Linked DNA regions of Homo sapiens: region 2 is linked to region 1. The links come from fine-mapping of genetic effects on gene expression. Tissue or cell type: spleen. Region 1 holds a variant in brackets; the other region holds the start of a gene. All regions are shown on one strand. Distances are between the middles of the regions.

Evidence for each region. PIP is the estimated chance that this variant, and not a neighbour inherited with it, causes the effect.
Region 2: it holds the start of UBQLNL, and the variant in region 1 is the best candidate, but not a certain one, in a credible set for the expression of UBQLNL in spleen (GTEx, PIP 0.65).

Annotation. Positions count from the first base shown.
Region 1 is chr11:5,548,985-5,557,193 of GRCh38, reverse strand. It overlaps the pseudogene OR52H2P. Among named protein-coding and RNA genes, the nearest start is that of OR52H1, 4.5 kb to the right of the region's middle. RefSeq lists an enhancer at 171-735. The variant A/G (reference allele first, on the strand shown) is at 3,171.
Region 2 is chr11:5,512,764-5,520,931 of GRCh38, reverse strand. It overlaps UBQLNL (ubiquilin like), which reads left to right and starts at 4,233. Exons shown (of 1, transcript NM_145053.5): 1 at 4,233-6,539. The coding sequence starts at 4,491. The coding sequence ends at 5,918. It also overlaps the pseudogene OLFM5P.

The DNA of each region.
Region 1 (8,209 bases):
AAAATTACACTCTGAAATAAAATTACTTACTTTACTCCTGCCCACTTGGCTAGCCCACAAAGGAAAGGTTTCTTGCAATCTAGGTGGTTACAGTAACTTCCACGTGTCTGTGTGTCCAAGTTCACCAGAAATGTTCTGCTTGCTATCTGTGCAATCTAGCTCACACACTTCCATCCATTCCTTCAACCACAGATGGGAGACTCCCACTGCGCTGCAGACACGATGAGCCTGAGAGCATTTATGGCTCCTAAGAAAGTCCCAGTGGAGTGACCTCTGGGACTTGTTTCCTGCCCCTGTCTCCAGCTAAACAGCACACAGGGACAAGTGAGCAAAGAAGAAAACAGTAAACTTCTTTTCTGTTTAACTGGCAATAACACCTTGAGTGTCTGTGTACTGAGCAGTGAGCCCCATAGAGGTGCCTAGGATGCAACATTAAAGGAAGCACTTAAAACCCTGAGAGTGAGTCCTTTGTTCCTTAAATGTTGCACTCTAGGCATTTCCCCCAATTCCAGCCCTGGAGGAAGCATTATTTAATTCATCCCTTTTAGCATGTATCATCATTTCTCCCTGGACTACAGGGAAATTCTCAAACTCATTCTGTTTCTAAAACTTCATTTCAATTGCATCTTACTTCATTCCAACAGCAAGTCTACACAGCAGCCAGAATGCAGTTTTCAATATGTCAATTTCATTCTGTCACACTCCCAAGTAAAATCCTCTATCAGCCCCCTCCCTCCCTTAGTCTTCAGGATAAGATTCAAGTTCTGAATCAGAAAGTACAAGTTCTTGTTTACTTCTCCAAACTCATCTGACCTTCCTCTTCTTTTCTCTCAGTCTCAGCATATCTAGGGTGCTGTCCATATCGGGGTGCATACAATTCCCCAAATCTCACAATATTCTCACTTAATCCTTCACATTTGAAATAATGTCTTCTCTGCCTAGCGTATCCCTATTCCTGTCATTTGCCTTGAGAATTTCTCTTTTTCCTTCAAAACACAGCTCCAATATAAGATTCTTGACCATCCTGCCCTCTTTCCTAATTGCATAGTATCTTCTCTGTGCCCACACAGATCCTTGTGCTTTTTGAGGTTACATATTATTTGTCACTCTGCAGTGGAATTGCCTCCTTCTGTGTGTATTTCCCTACTAATCCGTGATCTCCTTGAGGACAGTTAAAAAAAAAAGTCTTAGTCATATCTGCATCCACAGTGCTTGTTACACAGTAGAATAAAATACAAAATTAAATTAAAACTTAAAAAAAGATCACTATGTAATGTACTAAACAATGTACAAAGTGCATTGCTTATAACATTGCAATCAATCCTCAAACCCTGTGAGGTAGCTTAGATCTTCATACACACATGAGGAAACAGAATCTTGGAGTGGTTAAATAAATTTCCCAATTTCATCTAAAGAGAACTGATGGAGTTGGTGTATGGCAGCCAGGAGTGTCTGGCCTCCAGCTCTTTCCTCGTAACCGTCTATACTGTCCTGTAGACTGCCTCAACAAATGGTGGTTGGACAAATGCATAAATATAAGAATAGCAAACTGGGACAGGGTGCATCCTTTTATGCTGGTTATACTTAGGGTTTATGGCATAACCAATGCATCCAGATGAATGCCACCTTTCCAGATGAATGTCTCTTGAAGAGGCTAGGTGCCTGCTAAAAATGTTTGCTATTTTTCATAATTTTGATGTTTTCATTAGACTTCCTTCCTTCCTTCCTTCCTTCCTTCCTTCCTTCCTTCTTCTCTCTCCCTTCTCTCTCTCTCCCTTTCTCTTTCTTTCTTTCTCTCTCTCTCTTTCTTTCTTTCTCTTTCTCTTTTTCTTTTCATTTTTAGCATATGAGCCACATATATTAAAACACACATAACAACCACCACCACCACCACCACCAAGTACCTGCTGCTTTCAAGGAGCTTATTTCCACATCTAGCTCCTTCTTACCTGAAGGACTTTACACACACTTTTCTTTCTAAATGCTTTCCTTTCTGTTTTAGCCTACTGAAAATAATATAGTGTAAAGTGGAGTCGAAGAAAAGATCTGAGGTCAAACTACCTGTTAGAAATTTGGCTTTTCCACTTAACAGCTGAACAAATTTGGATATACTTTCTGTGTATCATCTTTTTTCTTGTCTGTAATATGGAAACAATAAGGGGGACCTACCTCTCTGGGAGGGAGGAAGGGCTAAATTCAATTGACTTACAGGTAGAATTCAGTATTATTTATTTTATTATATTTTTGTTAAAATCAACCTCATTTTACAATATCTTCCTCCAAGAATCCTTTCCTATCTCCTGCAGGTCCAATCGTCTTTGTTATTGATTCTCATGATAACCTATATATTTCCATAACATACATCGCAGGTAATAATTATTCTTATACATATAACCTACTGCTTATTTGAATAGTGTCTGTCTTCCTCAATAAATTATCTCCACCACGAGAGGCATTGCATCTGTTTTATACACACTATCTTTCCAGTACCTATTACATGCTTACATCTTTATTGACTGATTGGCTGCTACCCATTTCCCAGCACTCCGCTAAATATACCTAGATGATGTAAATTTACCAAAATATATCATAACTTCATGCCTCTAAGCCTTTGTATGTGTTGCTTTCTCTGCCTGAAATGTTTTTTCTCTGTCTTCTTGAGTAATCTGCATCATCCTCAAGACTCACATTGTTTCACCTATTTCTCAAGATCTTCTCTGATGCTACAGGTTTTGATAATACCTCTCCACTCAGTTTCCACAGGCATCTTTGAATTCCCTATGACTTTCATTCTGCATTGAAATTTTCTTTTACAAATCTGTTGACTTTAGCAGGTAATGTTCTCTTAAGAATAGACTGATATGTGTTTCTGAATACCTAAGGTTTAGCATCATGTCTGGTTTCCTGGGCCTGGCAAATTATTTGTAGTATTAATAAACATTTGTTCCTTTTAACTGTGCAAACTACCTTTTGTCCTGTTTAATGCTTTCTAAGTTAAATTTTACTTTTTATGCTTTCCATTTTGCTAGACTTGCTTCCATCACATTTAAATTTGTCAGAAACACACTTGTCTATCCTTTTTATCCTTGTTTATTCACACTTGTTTATCCTTTATGCATCATTTTGTTTTAGATCTTACTCATATAAGTGACATATAATTGAATTTTTAA[A/G]CTTTATTTATCTTTGTGCTTTTTGATAGAGGAATTCCAGCAATCTACATTTATAAGCATAAATGATGTATTTGGTTTTATGTTGTTAACTTGTTTTATATTTTTAGTTTTCTATATATTGGTTAATTTTGTATCTTTTGCTATGCAGATATTATACATGTTATTTGCCATACAGACTCTGTAGATAATTTTGGTTATATATAGAGGAGTCTAGGAAAAGACTCGTGGGTCTGATTCCCAGCACTACCATTTCCTTCTTGTGTGACTTTTGACAAATCACTTTTCTCTGCATCCTTAAAATGTGGATAATATTATTACCTGTCTCATAGAATTGTTAAGAAAATTACAAAAGTGGTCTCATGTAGTATATTAAAGGTTTTCAAAAAATATTAGCTTCTGTTATAAAGTTTATTTGCTTTTAGCTTGACCTAGGATTTAGAATATATAAATTGTATTTTTCTTCCACTAGAGGTCCTCTCTGTATTTGTAAAAAGCACACAAACCAATTTTCTCTGATTCTTAAACAAGATTTCCTCATTAATTCCTAAGGGTGGACTGAGATTGAGCCTCATACCCTTTCTCATTTCATTCATATAGGAGGCATCAAACATCACAATCTCAGAGAACATTCTGGTCTACAAGCCTTAAGTCTCTCTATGTAGTGTCTGAGATATCAGAACAGTCGTTGAAATTGGGGTAGGGTCAGTGTTGGGACAAATTACAGTTCCAGTGATCCGTTTCTTTACATCCTTTGCTACACGTCCACGCCTCTTCTGAATTCTTGGCATCTCACAGTGAGTTGAAGCAGTTACCTGGTGTAACAGCAACATGAAAGAGTAGTGGCTGTGGAATCTAATGACCTTGGCTCTGCTAGTTACTAAAGGTGAGATGTTAGGTAAGATTATGTCTCAGTTTCAGTTTCTGTAAAAAAAAAAAAAAATGAGGTGGATAAAAATACGTATCTCAGAAGGTTTTTCTAAATAAGATAATATTTTTCAAGAAACTGGCATGTACTAGGAGTCAGTAATTGTTAATTATCTCATTTTCCCAACTGTGACCCAGTATTTTTCAGTTTCTTTCTATCCCTGCATGTAGTTAGACTACTTTTCTCTATACTCATATTTATATAGCAGCAACTTACATTGACCCAGGGAGAACTCAGTCATTAAAATGGGAACAGCAGTTTATGCAGTTTGAAGAAGATTCTAGAGTAACTGGATGATTAGTATCAGAAGTATTGGGTCTGAGAGTCTTTCTTCAAGTGATGAACATTGCTGTTAATATCAATGAGAGGTTTTTTCTTGGAATATAGGAAAGAGGCGGACCAGCCCCTAGGAAGCAGTGGAGGAAGAATTACCATACAATTTCCTCATGTTCATTATAAGCAATTTGTTTTTAGGACACAGAAGCTATTGATCTTAAAGGCCATGTACAACATGAGTGACCATGGTACAGGCCTGTTCATCCTTTTGGGTATCCCTGGACTTGAGCAGTACCACGTCTGGATCAGCATCCCATTCTGCTTAATCTATCTCATGGCTGTCGTGGCCAATAGTATCCTTCTCTACCTCATTGTGGTAGAGCACAGTCTTCATGCACCCATGTTCTTTTTCCTTTCCATGCTGGCCATTACTGATCTCATATTGTCCACCACATGTGTCCCCAAAACACTTAGCATCTTCTGGTTTGGTCCCCAAACAGTTTCCCTGGCTGTCTCACCCAATTATTCTTTCTGCACTATAGCTTTGTGTTGGACTCAGCTATACTGCTGGCCATGGCATTTGACCGCTATATGGCCATTTGCTCACCCTTGAGATACACTACTATTCTGACTCCCAAAACCATTGTCAAAATTGCTGTGGGAATATGTTTCCGAAGTTTCTGTGTTTTTGTCCCATGTGTTTTCCTTGTGAATCGTTTACCCTTCTGCAGGACACATATCATTTCTCACACATACTGTGAGCACATAGGTGTTGCCCAGCTTGCCTGTGCTGATATCTCCATCAATATCTGGTGTGGATTTTGTGTTCCCATCATGACGGTGATGACAGACGTGATCCTCATTGCTGTCTCCTACACCCTCATCCTCTGTGCTGTCTTTTGCCTCCCCTCCCAAGATGCCCGTCAGAAGGCCCTTTGCTCCTGTGGTTCCCATGTCTGTGTTATCCTCATATTCTATATACCAGCATTCTTCTCCATTCTTGCCCATTGCTTTGGGCATAATGTCCCTCATACCTTTCATATTATGTTTGCCAACCTTTATGTAATCATTCCACCTGCTCTCAACTCTATTGTCTACAGAATAAAGACCAAGCAAATCCAGAACAGAATCCTTTTGCTCTTTCCCAAGGGGTCCCAGTGATAGGTGCCTGAGCTCTTGGAGGTAGGGACAAGTTCCTAGTGTGTGTTAGGTCAAAGACTGAACCTGTGTTCAGACACCCAAGAGAAAGGACAGACTAAAATTTATTAACGAAAACTTGAGTTTTGCTTTCTTTGTGATTTGAGGCAGAAGTCTACTCAATCATTTCAGTTATAGCAAAGTAAGTTCTGAGTCTAGGAAATAATAAATATTTTTTGACTTCTAGAAACAAGAACTTTTGTAATTCCTTATGATTGCTCTAAAGTGATTATAAAACTTTTAATGAAGACAATGTAATGATTGGCAAATCTGAATGGTTTTTCAGATTTATTTATCATGGTAGTTTATTTATACATCATAGCAAGGCAGGAAAATTACCTCTTTGATGACTCTGCAGGGTTCTGGGTTTTTACTTTGTTCACTCCTATTAATTTCTAAACAACATCAAGTATAATACCTAGCACACACTAGGGACATAGGCAACATTTATCAAATAAATAAATGGCAAATAATCATAAAATTATTAATTTAAGAGTGCAGGTGTTTATATTAAGCAAAGGGATAAGGCAATGATAAAACTCAATGTTTAACTCAACCTTGAGAAAGCCAAATGAGTTGTGGGTGGGTGGAGTTTTCCACAAGGAATAAAAGGAGGAAGGCAAATTCCTATGGCTAGTAAAATGGTAAAGCACGTACAGACTAAGAAGTGGGTTTAAGACTTGACCAATTGGAAGCATTGGTGGTCTCAATTTTTTTCATGTTTGTATCTCCATAGAGATGTAGTCACAAGCCAAAAATGTACCTCTGTATGATTCATTGTCTCTTCAAATCCAGTATGCATAACTTGGTCATAGTGAGTCATTCAGTCACTTGGTCAGTAATACTTATTTTTAGGTGTCTGCCAGGCAGCAATGATAATCAATGTCTTATTTCCCTTTCAAATCTGATACGTCCTCAAAACCTGTGGTTTTTTTCTAAATAACCTCTTGGATTCCCCGGCTGAGTGCAGGCACCCTCCTCCCCTACCCCAGTAGTTCAAACCCTCACTGCTTTCACTTGACTCAAAATATCAGAGTTGTTCATGGTCTCTTTACCTTGAGACTACTTTCCCATCCCCGTGCTACTACCCTTTTCACATGTCATTGAATTTTTATTTCTACAATGGCTCTCAACATATAGTTTTAATAGAAAAGAATGTCCTTTGGACTCGGAGAATTGTGTTTGAATTTATAGTCTATCTCTTAACATGTGACAATAGCTACATGCATTGTTTCCAAAATTACTTGATGTATTTTGCATACCATAAATAAAAATATAGTCAGGTCCCACTTAACAATGAGGATAGAGTCTCATAAATGTGTTGTTAGATGATTTTATTATTGTGCAAATATCATAGAGTGTACTTACACAAACCTGTGTGATACAGCCTTGGCTCTCTATTATATTCTATAGCTCCTAGGCTACAAAACTGTACATCATGTTACTATACCGAATATTGTAGGGAAGTATAATATAATGGTATTTGTGCATCTAAACATGTCTAAACATAGACAAGGTACTCTAAAATATGGTATTGTAATCTTATGGGACAATTGTTCAGAAACATTGTTATGTGGCATATTACAAAGTATAAATAGAAAAGGCAAAAAGAAAAGTAGAAAGATTTTTAAAAATTAAGACAAAAAATAGGCCGAAAATACACTTTCCACCTGCTATGAATTTTTGTTCTCTTATTATATGTGGGTCAGAAATTGAGCTGTAAGCTTTCTAACAGTCTATGTGAGAGTTAAACATGATTAGCTACATAATTCATGATGGCTATAAGTTACAGACAGTTAATTGTTAGAGAAGCAAAACTACTTCTTATATGAAGAATGGAGAAATATCTTTAGAAAGCTCTTAAAGAATAGGCAGTAAGTGATGCAATTAATCACATTCTTACAGAATACACAAGTTCATGTGACTCTTCAGTCCCTTATCCTAGTATAGAGAGGTGAAGCAACCTCAATTTTTATTCAGCGAAAGGTAAAAATTCTGTTGGGAGCCAATACAATACTAATCTCATTAGTTCTGGTTTATTCCAGATATTCTAGAACATTCAGAGTACTGAGTGGACTCCTGGCAATCTTTATTAATTAACACATTCAACAATATTTAGCAAACGTTTGACAAACATTGACAAAAACTGACTTGGCTTTCAGAATTGTTGGGTAAAAGCCTCTTAGGTAAAAATTGATATCTGGACTTGCAGAAATTCCTGACAGTACCAGCTGGTAGACCTAACAGTTTCTCCATAAGAATATATTTTATTTGCTCATATTGTTTTTACCAATAAAAATGTTTAATGAAGTTTAATGTTTTAAAAATTATAAGTGGGAGATAAGCTATAGGTATGCAAGGGCACACATAGTAGTATAATGGACATTGGAGACCCAGAAGAGGAGAAGCTAGGAGAGGGGTGAGGGATGAAACATCACCTATTGAGTACAATCTACGCAATATGGGTGACAGGTACGCTAGAAACCCAGACTTCAACCTTATACAATTCACCCATGTAATCAAAAAACACTTGTACCCCTAAAGCCACTGGAATTTTTAAAAGATAATATTAGAATTATTTCATGTGGGCCATATAATTTTCATCTTAACAGGTGCCCTAGGTTATTCCTTTACACCATAA
Region 2 (8,168 bases), 36 kb after region 1:
TTGCCTGCTTTTTCCCCTAGCTTCTTGTGCCCATGGAGGCCTCCAGGAAGTTAGCAAATCCCTTGTGGTGCAGCTCACTCGGAGAGGCTTCTCATATAAGGCAGGTCCCTGGGGCCGAGACTCAGCACCCAATCCAGCCTCTTCCCTTTACTGGGTTGCTCCTCTACGTACAGATGGCAGGTGAGCCCTGAGTGACTTCTGTTCTGCAATCGGATTAATTCCAAATGTCCCCTACCCATACCCAAACAGGGTTCTTTACAGCCCCACGCTGGTTTCTTCTATTTTAAGTATGCCCCAAAGCAAACCTAGCCTAGGCCTGACAGGTCACCTCCTAACGCTCTTCTCATGAGACAAGCGTGACCCAGACTGCCCTGAGTTTCCTTCACAAATCCACTGCCTACAAATTTTAATCCCATAGTAACTCAAAGATGGTTCTACTTCTACTCTGATTCTATGTAAAGAACAAACTCTTCTACACCTGGGCCTCAAAATTCTAACTTCCTGCTTAGAAGTTCAGAGCATGTCTCTGGCCAAGCTTGAGACTTGGAATTAAGCCAATCTGTGTTTGAAACTCTATACTGCCATTTAAGCTAAGTGACCTTGGGAAAATGAATTAACATCTCAGAACCTTTCTTAGCCATATGTAAAATGAGGATAATTATACATATTTGAGAAGATCACATAAGATTACATAGAAAAGTATGTAAAACATAGGTGATGATATGTATTTATTAGATGAAAGAATGGCTAAAAGAGTCAATAAATAGACGAATAAGACCTTCAATACATTGTCAACCTTGCTAGGGAGGTAGGCCCAACACACAGAATGTTAAAAGCCAGTGTGTGTGAAAATGTGATATAGACCTGTTGCGAGAGAGAGACATGAATCTAGGTTGAACCAGTCATTGAAGAGCTCCAGTTGAAGCTCAACTCAGAAAGATCAGTGTTACTGAAAATTAGTATTACTGAAAATAATATTCCCAAAATTCTATGCTTATCTAAAATGTATTGTATAGGCCACAATTTGTAGCATATAACTCATATGTGCTATACTTTGTAGCCTATAAAATACATTTACACGCCTTGGAACCCTCTCAAAATCTATAGGTAATCAGGACTTACAGAACAATGTTAAGAGATAAGATTACTCATAACTCAGAGATAATTTAAGGAACTTTCCAATGTGACCTCATGAGAACAAATCTCCCTGAATCCAGCTCCAGAAATATGTCCTGTTACAGGACCCTTGCATCTTGAGGACAGGTGGAAGGCAGTGCAGAGTAGATACAGAAGAATCTCCATAAGGAAGAAAAAATAATAGCTACCATTTTTTATTGCTTATTGAAACAAATGCTGTACTAATTGTTTTCTTTGCTTTATTTTGGACAGTCCTAACAGTCAATAAAGTAGCTTGTTACTTTTGTTTACAGTTTTTACTTATAAGCTGTGTGACCTCGAGCAAATGACTCAACCTTTCTAAGACTTAGTCTCTTCATCTGTAAGGATAAAACCTACCTTACAGTGCTGTTATTATAATTAAATAAGATTGTGCATATATAGTGTCTAATAGGCACTGTAGCTATTGGTGTTTTATTATTACTGTTACTTTTAAAAATAATTGTTTAGTTTGTCATGGTTGAGTAAGTGAAAGATGAACTAAAGTCAATTGTTTGATAGCAAAGCCCCTGCTCTTAATTAGCAAACTGATCTGCCTATTTTTGTAGCTCTTTGTTACCTTAGTTATGGCTGTCACCCAATAATTCTGAATGCAGGGACTTGGCCTAGGTACTTTGACTACTATCGGCTGTGCAAATCCTATAATGACCTCGCACTGCTGAAAAACTATGAAGAGAGGAAGATGGGCTATGGTGATGGCAGTGGAAACGTTGTGTACAAGAACTTTATGTACTTTAACTACTGTGGCACAAGTGACATGGCCAAAATGGACCTTTCCTCCAACACACTGGTGCTGTGGCGTCTGCTGCCTGGTGCCACCTATAACAACCGCTTTTCCTATGCTGGTGTGCCCTGGAAGGACTTAGATTTTGCTGGTGATGAGAAGGGGCTGTGGGTTCTCTATGCCACTGAGGAGAGCAAGGGCAACCTGGTTGTGAGTCGTCTCAACGCTAGCACCCTAGAAGTGGAGAAAACCTGGCGTACCAGCCAGTACAAGCCAGCCCTGTCAGGGGCCTTCATGGCCTGTGGGGTGCTCTATGCCTTACACTCACTGAACACCCACCAAGAGGAGATCTTCTATGCTTTTGACACCACCACCGGGCAGGAGCGCCGCCTCAGCATCCTGTTGGACAAGATGCTGGAAAAGCTGCAGGGCATCAACTACTGCCCCTCAGACCACAAGCCGTATGTCTTCAGTGATGGTTACCTGATAAATTATGACCTCACCTTCCTGACAATGAAGACCAGGCTACCAAGACCACCCACCAGGAGGCCCTCTGGGGCTCATGCTCCACCAAAACCTGTCAAACCTAACGAGGCTTCCAGACCCTGAGACCCCAGGGCTAGGCAGAGCATTGGTAGAAGTGTGCCCTCTTCCTTACCTCCAGGAGGACCACATCCCAAAGTGGCCATTGGTCCTAATGATTGGAAGACTGATTATATCTAGTGAGTTCTTTATGTAATTAATATCTCAATCAGTACATTAAGGTTCCCTTTAATAATGGTCTAGGTGGATTTGATAGGGAAAAAGTAAAATATTAGCTAAGAAAATGGTACCCTCTCTTTCTGATGCTTTGGCATCTCATATTCCTTTTTTCATAAATCCAGCTCCCGGAACTCAAGAGTTCTGTGATCTAGAATTGTCAATCTCAGGTTGGGAACACCTGATTCCAGTGCAGAAGCTGCAGGGCAGCTGGTCATTAGAGTAGGATATGAAAGTTCCCTTTCTTATCTCCACCTTCCTGTGAGGTCCCTGGGGAGAAAAGGGGCAAGATCTTGGTCTGGTAATCAATTTTTCATTGTCCTGGATCGATCTCACTTTTGAGTGCAATTGCAAGAGAATAGGCCTGAGTCTTGCTGTAGTAAGTTAGCAACTGGCCTTATAGCATGATGAGGATCTGACATGGATGGTGCTGGGGGTCTAGATATTCTCAATAAAGAATCATTGGTTTGATAGCAGAAGGTCTCCTGGCCAACGGCCTATCATCCCTTTGCTTGTCTTCAACACACTGGGAACATATGGGCTCGAGCTTTTTGCTTGTTCCTTAGCTATCTGTGTGGTGCTCCTCCCTCTCCAGGCAGGTGGATGGAATATATAAAATCCAGACCCTGAAGGCTTCCTAGTAACACAGAATATGCATACAATTTCATATATACATTCGATAAGACATGTACACTCTCACTCATATAAATAATTATTTCCATCTGCATCTAAATAAAAACCAAACACAATTCTCCAAATTTACATGGGACCAAGAATCCAGCTTTTTAGTTGCCTGTATTTGTCCCCTTAAGAATTTTACTACTAACCACCTCCTCTCCCACCTCTTGATTTACAGACGACATTCCCCCTTAATGCTTTGACATAAAGGTGGGCACACAAGAGTGGGTTAGGACATTGAAACAAATCATTCTAAAACTTCTGTTATATTGACATGTAGAAGAGACCAAGTGATATGTGAATAAAAGGCATATTATAAAAAAGAGCTAATTCACATTTAGTTTGGCATGTGCCTATGAAGAGCCTTCCTGGTTAGCCCTACTCCTGCTTCCTAGGACAGAGGAAAATTTTCCCCACCACATGGGAGCACAATTAAATATAGAATCCCAAAATCTAGACTCTATATAAGACCCAAATTTCCAGATCATTAAAAAAATTAATGCGCTCCTTCCTATGGGAGAGACTGCATTCTTATAGGAATGTGGCTTTATCTATGGCTTCAGTAGACCCAACTTTTCATACAAGTCTAACATCCCTATAAGGAACATACACACAGTATCACACGGAAACACACATCCCACATTTAAAAATATGGTTTTTATTTACTTTTTTGTTTTCTTACTAGTTCCATCCAGAGAACTTTGTCCCTGTTTTCTGGAAAATTATTTTATTTTATTGTAGAGCCCTGGACCCCTAAATATGTCCTCCTTCCCCAGCTGGCCCAGGGTGACTGCGAGGATAGAGTTGACATCACAATATCCCTTTTCTGAGGATTCATGCCCCTGGTGGGTGGGGTAGGAGGAGGGGTAGCCCTAGGAGAAGTCATCACCACTTTGTCCACCATGGGTGAATTATGAATCAGTAGCTATGCCAGGCCTCAGCTGGGCCACATCTGGAGAACTGGGGTGAGGGCACAACATCACAAAATATCTGGCCCCAGTCTGGTCACTCATCCCTTTTAGGGCAACAAGGAAACTATCCTGTGGCCTGAGAGCACAATACCTGAGACAAAGGCCAGCAGAAACATTTGTCTGCCCTCACCCTTTCTGCCCCAGCTTCCACCTGCTCCCCATCTGCCCACCCACTAAAGCCCATGTGGCATGCCATCTCTCGAACATCCAGGATGTCCCAGAGTGGATGTCCATCAGGTCTGCTGGCAGACAAAAATATCTCTTCAAGTGCCACTCGAGTGATAGTGAAGACTGCAGGCAACCAGAAAGACTTTATGGTAGCTGATGACATCTCGGTAAGGCAGTTCAAGGAGATGCTATTGGCTCACTTCCAATGCCAGATGGACCAACTAGTGCTGGTCTTCATGGGTTGCCTTCTCAAAGACCATGACACACTGAGCCAGAGGGGCATCATGGATGGCCACACCATCTACTTGGTCATCAAGTCCAAGCAGGGCTCCAGATCTCTAGCCCATTCCTTCCGGGACCTGCCAACGAATGATCCCTGCCACCGGGACAGAAACACCAAAGGAAACAGCAGCAGAGTGCACCAACCAACTGGTATGAATCAAGCTCCAGTGGAACTGGCCCACTTTGTGGGGTCTGATGCACCCAAAGTGCATACCCAAAACTTGGAAGTGAGCCACCCAGAGTGCAAAGCACAGATGCTGGAGAATCCTAGCATCCAGCGGCTTCTGTCCAACATGGAGTTCATGTGGCAGTTCATTTCAGAACATCTAGACACGCAACAATTGATGCAGCAGAACCCAGAAGTTTCCCGCCTTCTTCTTGATAATTCTGAGATCCTATTGCAGACTCTGGAGCTGGCCAGGAACCTTGCTATGATCCAAGAGATAATGCAGATCCAACAACCTTCACAAAACCTTGAGTATCCACTGAACCCACAGCCATATCTGGGCTTAGAGACAATGCCAGGTGGGAATAATGCCCTGGGTCAGAACTATGCTGATATCAATGATCAAATGCTGAACAGCATGCAAGATCCTTTTGGAGGAAACCCTTTCACAGCTCTCCTGGCAGGACAAGTGCTAGAACAAGTCCAGTCTTCACCCCCACCTCCACCACCATCACAGGAACAACAAGACCAGCTCACACAGCATCCTGCAACCCGAGTCATCTATAATAGCTCTGGTGGTTTCTCTTCAAACACCTCAGCCAATGACACCCTTAACAAGGTCAACCACACTTCCAAAGCCAACACTGCTATGATTTCCACCAAGGGCCAGAGCCATATCTGTGCCACTCGGCAGCCAGCTTGGATACCAGCCTTACCTAGCATAGAGCTTACCCAGCAGCTTCAAGAAGAATACAAGGATGCCACTGTTTCTCTAAGTAGCTCCAGACAGACATTAAAGGGTGATCTCCAGCTGTCAGATGAGCAGAGCAGCTCCCAGATCACAGGAGGCATGATGCAGTTGCTTATGAACAACCCCTACCTGGCAGCTCAGATTATGTTGTTCACAAGTATGCCCCAGCTGAGTGAACAGTGGAGGCAGCAGCTGCCCACATTCCTGCAGCAGACACAGATTTCTGATCTGCTTAGTGCTTAGGCAACCCTAAAGCATTCCAAGCAATATTGCAGATTGAGCAGGCCCTCCAGCTGCTGGCCACAGAGGCTCCTGTTCTTCTGCCTTGGGTTGCACCCTACCTATGGGGCCTGGGTTGGCTTCCTGCCCCCAGCTGCAGCTATCCTGACACAGTGCCCTGTTCCTGGAATGTTTCAGATACAGCTGAGCCCAAGGGACCTGAGTGCTGCCACAAGCCTGGAACAGTCCTGCAGAGGCTACAATCCCCGGATGGGGACCCTTCCCACCCTCTGCAAGCTCCTGAGATTTGTTTTAGCAAACAGATGGATTCTCTCCAGGCCATGGGATTTGGGAACCACCATGCCAATCTACAGGCACTCATTGCTACTGAAGGGGACACCAATGCTGCTATCCGCAAGCTCAAGAGATCCCAGAGATTCTAACCACCATGCCTACTTGTTTGCTTGCTACCTGCCTGCTGACCCACCTGACCATCTCATTTGCCTTTTGCACCTTTCCTGATGCTTCCAGCCAGGAGAAGTCCTGGAATAAGAGTTATCAACCAATGTGTCTTGTACTGAATAATAGATCATTGGTCGTGGCTGAAACATCTGTCAATAAAATGGCTACACTCACTTGCTGCGATCTGAGGTTTGGCTTTACTTCTTTTGCAAAAAAAAAAAGAAAAAACTAGCTGTGTGAGATTTTTGTCTCACCTACTATATGTACATTAACACACAAACCACATGCATATATTAATATAGAGATAAAAATAATGTTTTTATCTCTAAAACATGAGCATTTTGAGCATGGTATATGAAACTTGAGCATGGTATATGAAACTGATTATTTTGAGCATGTCACCTTGGACAGGTGTGTGTATGTACACAAGCTCACATAGTAAAAAATTCACATATACAGGCATATAGAGTCCACATATGAGTACACACAGCCATGTGCAAACACAGATGCAAATACCTAGAGACACATAAATAGACCCATATGTAGGGAAAACAATCATAACATGCTCAAACAGAAAGGGAAACATTTTACATAGATAGGCCCAGATATTTAGTCATAAAGACTGCCTGAATTTCTCAAACCCAAATTGTTCAAGTTTGAAAGTGGAACAGGAATAATATGAGGGCCAGAGTAGGGTGAATTCACATATTAACCAAGTCCGGATGAATAGTTATCATCATTGGAACCTCCTGCTCGTTGATTTTGCCACCATTATAAGATGGTGATGGGCTGTCTCTACTGTCTCTTTAGCACACAGAGATGCAGCTGCTGCCATCTCCACTGTATATCCCAGTCACCACAAATCCAGCCCTCCATGGGGCACAGCACCTTCCAAGAATATCACCTCCTTCAGTATATCTATCTTATGTTTGTAGTTTACATTTTCCATGGTTGCCAATGCCCCACCTTTTTCTCTTTCTGCCTCACCTAGAGTATCCCACCATGGCAGGATATGCAATTATTTGTGTTTTAATGATTCCATGATTAAATAATTTAAAACACTTTTACCATAATAATTCAATGTTGTTTTAGGCATTGAAAAAAATAGCAGTGAAAAAAACAAAGATCCTTTATTTATTGACTTTACTTTCTTTTGTGGAGATACAAGTTATGTTAAGTGGTAAGTGCTGTGAAGAAAAATGAATCAGAATAAGATATTCTACATAGGGTGATGAGGGAAGGCCTCTCTGAAAAGGTGACATTTGAGCAGAAGTCAGAAGTAACTACGAGAACTGAACATGCAATTCACTGGGAGAAGGAAGATCCAGGGGCTGTCTGAAAGTAAAAGGCCCAAGGTAGCAGTATTCCTGCTATGTTTTAAGAATAACAAGGAGGTGATGTAGCTGAAATGGACAAAAAGGAGCGGGGAATGGGGAGGAAGTCAGAGAGATTGTGAAAAGTTTTATAGGTCTGGTGAAAACTTTGGATTTTACTGTGAATGTAATAGTCACTGGTGAGTTTTGAGCAAATAAATCAAATAATTCAATTTATCAGTCTGGCTTCAGAGTGGAGAATGGACTGTGGTAGAGGAAAACCAGGGAAGCAGGGAAACCAGTTAGGAGGCTTTTATGATAGAGCAGTTGAGAAACAGTAGTTTCTTGCAGTAGGGTGGGAGCAGGGGAGGTGTTGAGGAGTAGATTCTGGACTCTAAAGGGGACCCATCCACAGAGATTTGTGTGCTCAACAGACCACCCCTTCTGAGCCCCAACATGGCCATCGGTAAGAGTGAAGGGCGGGCCTACAAACTTCCAA